Linked DNA regions of Homo sapiens. The protein of the gene in region 1 purifies or fractionates together with the protein of each later gene. This does not show direct contact. Each region holds a gene or a part of one and is shown on either strand. Other genes may lie near its edges. The genes, in order: CTBS and ACAD10.

Region 1 (3,818 bases):
TTTGGCTGCTACAGCCTTACAAAATCTATTTCTTAATTAATAAGAGTTAAAAGTTGAAATTACTCCTTGTTCCATGGGCTGCAGAATGGATGTTGTGTTAGCAGGCATGAAAATAACATTCATCTTGTGTTCTCCATCAGAGCTCTTGGGTGACCAAGTGCATTGTCAATGAGCAGTAATATTTTGAAAGAAATCTCTTTTTTTTCTTAGTACATCTCAGCAGTGGGCTTAAGATATTCAGTAAACAGATGTGCTGTGAGCCAGGCTTTGTTATTCCATTTATAGATCACAGGCAGAGTCAATTTAGCATAATTCTTAAGTGCCATAGGATTTTTGGAATGGTAAATGAACACTGGCTTCAACTTAAAGTTACCACCCTCATTAGTCCCTAACAAGAGAATCAGCCTGTACTTTGAGCTTTAAAGCCAGGTATTGACTTCTCCTGTCTAGCTAGCAAAGTCTTAAATGGCATCATCTTCTTCCAATATAAGATTTATTTGAAGAAAGGGGTCTCTGCCTTTTAAAATGTGTTTGATCATAATTTTACCCGACATGGGAGGTTTCAGAATGAAAACCCAAAGATACAGGAAAAACTGTCCATTTTTGTGCTTAGGTTCAACGAAGTATGGACAGCTATGTAGAACTGTGATCAGAATAAAGGGCATGAGCTAATGCAAACAGACTGAGTGGGAAAACTCAGCAAGGACTGTCTGTTCAGATTTTTCTTGGCCTCTCTGTGAAGGATTTCTTCTCATGGGTATGGGGTAGGACCTCTCTGGAATGAGGGTCTTAATTTCTTTATGGCCAGCTATTACACAGAAAGGTGGTGGTGGGAAAGGTTAGAGTAACATTTTTAGACTTTATGGCTGGTTTTGGGGAAAAGAGGCTCTAGTTTCTATGACCCATTTTAGGGAAGAGGGATTCTAGTTTCTCTTTCTTTCTTTCTTTCCTTTCTTTCTTTCTTTCTTTCTTTCTTTCTTTCTTTTTTTTTTTTTTTTTGAGACAGAGTCTTGCTCTGTCGCCCAGGCTGTAGTGCAGTGGCGCCCTCTGGGTTCACTGCACCCTCTGCCTCCTGGGTTCAAGCAATTCTACTCCTCAGCTTCCCCCATAGGTGGGATTACAGGTGCCCGCCACTATGCCGGGCTAATTTTTATATTTTTAGTAGAGATGGGGTTTCACTATGTAGGCCAGTCTGGTCTCAAACTCCTGACCTCAAGTGATCCGCCTACCTTGGCCTCCCAAAGGCCTGGGATTACACGCATGGGCCACTGCACCTGGCCAACACATTGTTTAAGCTCTTAGAATTCAGGAAACATTTTGGTGAGCCTTGAAGGCCATTTAATGTCACTTCAGAAAACAATCTAATTATAACTATTTTCTTCCTCTTTTTTATTCATTGCAAAATTCCCATTGTAAGGTTATTAGTCTAATTTCAATATCGTTATTAAGTCTTTTTTTTCTGAGATGGAGTATCGCTCCGTCACCCAGGCTGGAGTGCAGTGGCACAATCTCAGTTCACTGCAACCTCTGCCTCCTAGGTGTAAGTGAGTCTCGTGCCTTAGCCTCCCAAATATCTGGGGTTATAGGGATGCCCTACCATGCCCGGCTAATTTTTTGTATTTTTAGTAGAGATGTGGTTTCACCATGTTGGCCAGGCTGGTTTGAAACTCCTGACTTCAAGTGATCCTCCCATCTCGGCCTTCCAAAGTGTTGGCATTACAGGCGTGAGCTACCGCGCCTAGCCAAATATTGTTATTAAGTCTTATATGGGCAGTTCATGGTGCCCACAAACAATTACAATAGTAGCATCAAAGACCACTGATTGCAGATCATCATAACAGATATAATAATAATAATGAAAAAGTTTGGAATATTTTAAGAATTGCCAAAATGTGACACAGACACAAAATGAGCACTTGCTGTTGGAAAAATGGCACCAGTAGACTTGTTCAATAGAGTTGCCATAAACCTTCAATTTGCAAAAAATTTAATGTCTGCAAAGCACAATAAAGCAAAGTACAATAAAATGAGGTATGCCTGTAATTTAAAAATATGTAACATAGAATCTTAGGACAGTATATACTACCATATACTGTTTCTTTGTAATCCTGACCTTAGTAATCTGTGGCTTGTTTTTTCCTTAATGAATGTGAAAATGCAGGAACACATTCTTCTTTTTTTTTAGACGAGGTTTTGCTCTGTCACCCAGGATGGAGTGCAGTGGCACAATCATGGCTCACTGCAGCCTTGACCTCTTGGGCTCAAGCAATCCTCCTGCCTCAGCCTACCAAGTAGCTAGGACCATAGGCGTGTGCCATCATGCCAGGCTGATTTTTTTACTTTTTGTAGAGACGGGGTCTTTCTATATTGCCCAGGCTGGTCTTGAACTCCTGGCCTCAAGTGATTCTCCCACCTTGGCCTCCCAAAATGCTGGGATTACAGGTGTGAGCCACTGCACTTGGCCTCTTTTTTTTTTTTAATTAAAAAAAAGTGGCCGGGCGCGGTGGCTCACGCCTGTAATCCCAGCACTTTGGGAGGCTGAGGCGGGCGGATCACGAGGTCAGGAGATCGAGACCATCCCGGCTAAAACGGTGAAACCCCGTCTCTACTAAAAATACAAAAAAAATTAGCCGGGCGTAGTGGCGGGCGCCTGTAGTCCCAGCTACTTGGGAGGCTGAGGCAGGAGAATGGCGTGAACCCGGGAGGCGGAGCTTGCAGTGAGCCGAGATCCCGCCACTGCACTCCAGCCTGGGCGACAGAGCGAGACTCCGTCTCAAAAAAAAAAAAAAGTTTAATGGCAGGCAAAAATTATCTGTATTTATGGTGTAGAAGATGATGTTTTGATATATCTATACATTGTGAAATGGCTAAATCAAGTTATTTAACATATGTATTACCTCACATACCATTTTTTAAATGGTAAGAACACTTAAAATCCATTCTCTTAGGAATTTTCAACATAATACATTGTTATTAACTATAGTTACCACGGGATACAGTAGATTTCTTGTATTTATTGTTCCTAATTGAAAATTTGTGTCTTGAAATATCTATTCTTCCCACCCCCAGCCTCTGGTAACCACCTTTTTACTCTGTTTCTATGAAGAAACACATTCTTTAGGTCTCAGAATTCAGGAAACATTTTGGTGCGCATTGAAGGCCATTTAATGCCACTTTAGAAAAAAATCTAGTTATAACTGTTTCCTTCCTCTTTTTTTTTTTTTTGAGATGGAGTCTCACTATGTCGCCCACGCTGGTGTGCAGTGGCGCGATCTTGGCTCACTGCAAGCTCCGCCTCCCGGGTTCACGCCATTCTCCTGCCTTAGCCTCCCAAGTAGCTGGGACTACAGGTGCCCGCCACCAAGCCTGGCTAATTTTTTTGTATTTTTTTAATAGAGACGGGGTTTCACTGTGTTAGCCAGGATGGTCTCGATCTCCTGACCTCATGATCTGCCCATCTCGGCCTCCCAAAGGGCTGGGATTATAGGTGTGAGCCACCGCGCCCAGCCTCCTTCTTTTTTTTTTTTTCTTTTTTTTTTTTTTTTTTTTGAGATGGAGTTTTGTTCTTTTCGCCCAGGCTGGAGTGCAGTGGCACGATCTCGGCTGACTGCGCCCTCCGCCTCCCAGGTTCAAGCAATTCTCCTGCCTCAGCGTCCTGAGTAGCTGGGATTACAGGCATGCATCACCACACCCAGCTAATTTTTGTATTTGTAGTAGAGGCAGGGTTTCACCATGTTGGCCAGGCTGGTCTTGAACTCCTGACCTCAGGTGATTCACCCATCTTGGCCTCCCAAAATGCTGGGATTACAGGCGTAAGC
Region 2 (3,818 bases), on another chromosome or scaffold:
GGGTCTGGTCCCCAGGAAACACCACTGAGGGGCCCCTGCTCTTGTTCAGGACTTGCCACATCCCACGTCTGAGGGTATGATGACATTTGGAGTCACATGCTCCTGCATTTCATTTCCATACATGAATATCAACCATGCAGGCGGATTTCAGACAGGCATTTATGGATTTTTTTCCCTCTTCTAAACTTAGAAAGTAATCAGGAGTCTGTGACACAGGAAGCCATACAGGGCAGACGCAGGAAGTGGACCCCAAACCTACTCTTCCAGGCCCCAGTGTGAACAGCTGACCTCTAGGCCACAGCCCTGGTTTGGTCCGCTCCCAGTTTGGTTCTCTGCTAATAGTGTTCACATTTTTACTTTCAGTGTTTTCATAGGATCACTACATTGTCACAAACCACTAGGAGCTTCAGCTTAAGGTGGCATTATTATGTTTTTATAAAAGGAATCACAGAATAGTCATTTGCCATTATAAATCAGTGATTCATTTTCTGTGTTTAACAGGCTGTTTCCTGCCGTCCTTTTCCCTTTAACCATGTCCCAGTAAGAAGGCTAAATAAAGGGCAGGGACATTGCCAGCAGATAACCCAGACTGAGGTGAGGAATAAACACATCCAAGGAAAATGACTATGGCTATTGCTCACAGTGATCGTTTGGGTCTTTCAGGTGGCCATGGTGAAGTCCGATTTGAGCACGTGCGTGTGCCCAAAGAGAACATGGTCCTGGGCCCTGGCCGAGGCTTTGAGATCGCCCAGGGCAGACTGGGCCCCGGCAGGATCCATCACTGCATGAGGCTGATCGGGTTCTCAGAGAGGGCCCTGGCACTCATGAAGGCCCGCGTGAGTGCTTTCCCCCGCACCCAGCACTGACTCAGAACCACCACCTTCTGCTTTGCTGTCGGACTTCAATTCCTACCTGTTTTCTGAGTGCAGTCCTAGCAGGTGAAGCAAGGTGATGTCCTTGCCAAGAAGTTGCATTCCTGTCTGCTTTGCATCTGCTACTTTGCTGCAGTTTGGATTCAGAGCAGAATGGACCCCACTCTGTCGAGGTGACCTGAAGGGAAACGCCAGGCTCTGTAGCAGCAGAGGCAAGGTTCCAAGGTGTAAAGGTCATGCTGCTAGCACATTATTAAAAATCAGTCTGGGTGCAATGGCTCACAGCTATAATCCCAGTACTTTGGGAGGTCTAGGTAGGAGGGTTGCTTGAAGCCAAGCATTTGAGACCAGCCTAGGCGAAAAAGAGAGACTCAGTCTCTACAAAAAAAAAAAAAATTTTTTTTTTTTTTTTGAGATGGAGTCTTGCTCTGTCACCAGGCTGGAGTTCAGTGGTGTGATCTCGGCTCACTGCAACCTCCACCTCCCGGGTTCAAGCAATTCTCCTGCCTTAGCCTCCCAAGTAGTTGGGACTACAGGCACGTGCCACCACGCCCAGCTAATTTTTGTATTTTTAGTAGAGACAGGGTTTCACCATGTTGGCCAGGAAGGTCTCGATCCCTTGACCTCGTGATCTGCCCGCCTCGGGCTCCCAAAATGCTGGGATTACAGGTGTGAGCCACCGTGCCCGGCAAAAAAAAGAAAAAGTTTTTTTTGTTTTTTTTTTTTTTGAGACGGAATCTCACTCTGTTGCCTAGGCTGGAGTGCAGTGGCGCGATCTTGGCTCACTGCAACCTCTGCCTACTGGGTTCACACCATTCTCTTGCCTCAGCCTCCCGAGTAGCTGGGACTACAGGCACCCGCCACCATGCCTGGCTAATTTTTTGTATTTTTAGTAGAGATGGGGTTTCACCATGTTAGCCAGGATGGTTTCGATCTCACCGTGTTAGCCAGGATGGTCTCGATCTCCTGACCTCATGATCCGCCCACCTCAGCCTCCCAATGTGCTGGGATTACCGGCGTGAGCCACCGTGCCTGGCCAAAAAGAAAAAGTTTTAAGTGCCAGGCATGGTAGCATGTGTCTCTAGTCCCAGCTACTCAGGAGGCTGAGGCAGAAGGATCGCTTGAGCCCAGGAGTTTAGGGCTGCAGTGAGCAGTGATCACACCACTGCACTCCAGCCTGGGTGACAGAGTGAGACCCTGTCTCTTTAAAAATAAATAAATAAATAAAAATCAGACACCAGGGAGATCCCATGTTGCTTGTTTTTGTCCCTAGGCTTCCATCATCTGGCCTGTACCACCCTCCTCCACAGCACATCCAGAAAACTTTATTCGGCCATAATCCTACCACCCCCAAAGTTTGGAAACCTAGGTTAAAAGACAGCTGCTTCCAGGACAGGAATTCAAATTGGTGATTATCAATTTCAGAAAGGTGACGCAAACCCTGAGACCAAAACCAGTGTCTCACAAGAACTGCTATTGAAAGAACAGAGGCAGTCTGAATTTTTTATTACCGAGCAAACCTGTGATTTACACCCTTTTGAGTTAAGACTGACCAGTTATTTTTTCTTTCTAAGTAAAACGCTCCTGTCTATGGACTCAGGTATGGTGCTTCAGCCCCACATGGAATTAAATTCAGCCTTCTGGCAGAATAATTGGACTGAATGAGTCAGACAGAAGTCTCCAGAAAGTGCATAGCATGAACATGGCACCTCCACTGAAGACTTGGTTGGAGTAATTAGGAATCTACAAAAGATTTGCTACAAGGAGGTTCACCACAGTGCTTATTGAAATAGCAAAATTCTGAACAACCTATAAGGCTAACAATGACTGTTGGCCAAATAAAACACAAGATGGCATACAGTGAGACTTTAAATGATGCTGTGGAAATCTATTCCTTAACATGGAGAAATTGCTCACTATATACACTTAAATTTAAAAAAAAAGACTGTGGCCAGGTGTGGTGACACTCCCAGCACTCTGAGAGGCCGAGGCAGGCAGATTGCTTGAGCCCAGGAATTTGAAACTAGCCTGGGCAATACGGCAAAACCTCATCTCTATAAAAAATAAGGCTGGGCGCGGTGGCTAACGCCTGTAATCTCAGCACTTTGGGAGGCTGAGGTGGGCGGATCACTTCAGGTTAGGAGTTTAAGACCAGCCTCGCCAACATGGTGATACCCCGTCTCTACTAAAAATACAGAAGTTAGCTGGGCATGGTGGCACATGCCTGTAATCCCAGCTACTTGGGAGGCTGAGGCAGGAGGATCACTTGAATCCAGGAGGCGGAGGTTGCACTGAGCTGAGATTGCACCACTGCACTCTAGCCGGAGTGACAAAGCAAGACTCCATCTCAAAAAAAAAAATTAAAATTAAAAAATTAAAAATAGTAGCCAGGTGGGGCTGGGTGTGGTGGCTCATACCTGTAATTCCAGCACTTTGGGAGGCCGAGGTGGGCAGATCACCTGAGGTCGGGAGTTCGAGTCCAGCCTGACCAACATAGAGAAACCCTGTCTCTACTAAAAATATAAAATTAGTTGGACGTGGTGGCGCATGCCTGTAATCCCAGCTACTTGGGAGGCTGAGGCAGGAGAATCGCCTGAACCCGGGAGGTGGAGGTTGCGGTGAGCCGAGATCGCACCATTGCACTCCAGCCTGGGCAACAAGAGCGATACTCTGTCTCAAAAAAAAAAAAAAAAAGTAGCCAGGTGTGGTGGCACACATTTATAGTCCTAGCTACTCAGGAGGCTGAGGTGGGAGGATCTCCTGAGCCTGGGAGGTCGAGGCTGCAGCGACCTGTGAGTGTGCCATTGCACTGCAGCCTGGGTAACAGAGCAACACCCTGTCTGGGAAAAAAAAAAACAAACAAAAACAGGCTGTTAGCTTTGATGCAAAATAATGTTTTGTTGTTGTTGTTGTTGTTGTTGTTATTGTTTTAAGCAGGCTGGCCGG

Evidence for each region.
Region 2: the proteins of CTBS (region 1) and ACAD10 fractionate together in Homo sapiens (co-fractionation; one large-scale study listed by BioGRID). This does not show direct contact.

Annotation. Positions count from the first base shown.
Region 1 is NC_000001.11:84,557,265-84,561,082, reverse strand, and holds part of CTBS (di-N-acetylchitobiase precursor), read left to right. Parts: intron 1-3,818. UniProt on the Homo sapiens protein: Involved in the degradation of asparagine-linked glycoproteins. Hydrolyze of N-acetyl-beta-D-glucosamine (1-4)N-acetylglucosamine chitobiose core from the reducing end of the bond, it requires prior cleavage by glycosylasparaginase.
Region 2 is NC_000012.12:111,748,510-111,752,327, forward strand, and holds part of ACAD10 (acyl-CoA dehydrogenase family member 10), read left to right. Parts: intron 1-663; coding exon 664-836; intron 837-3,818.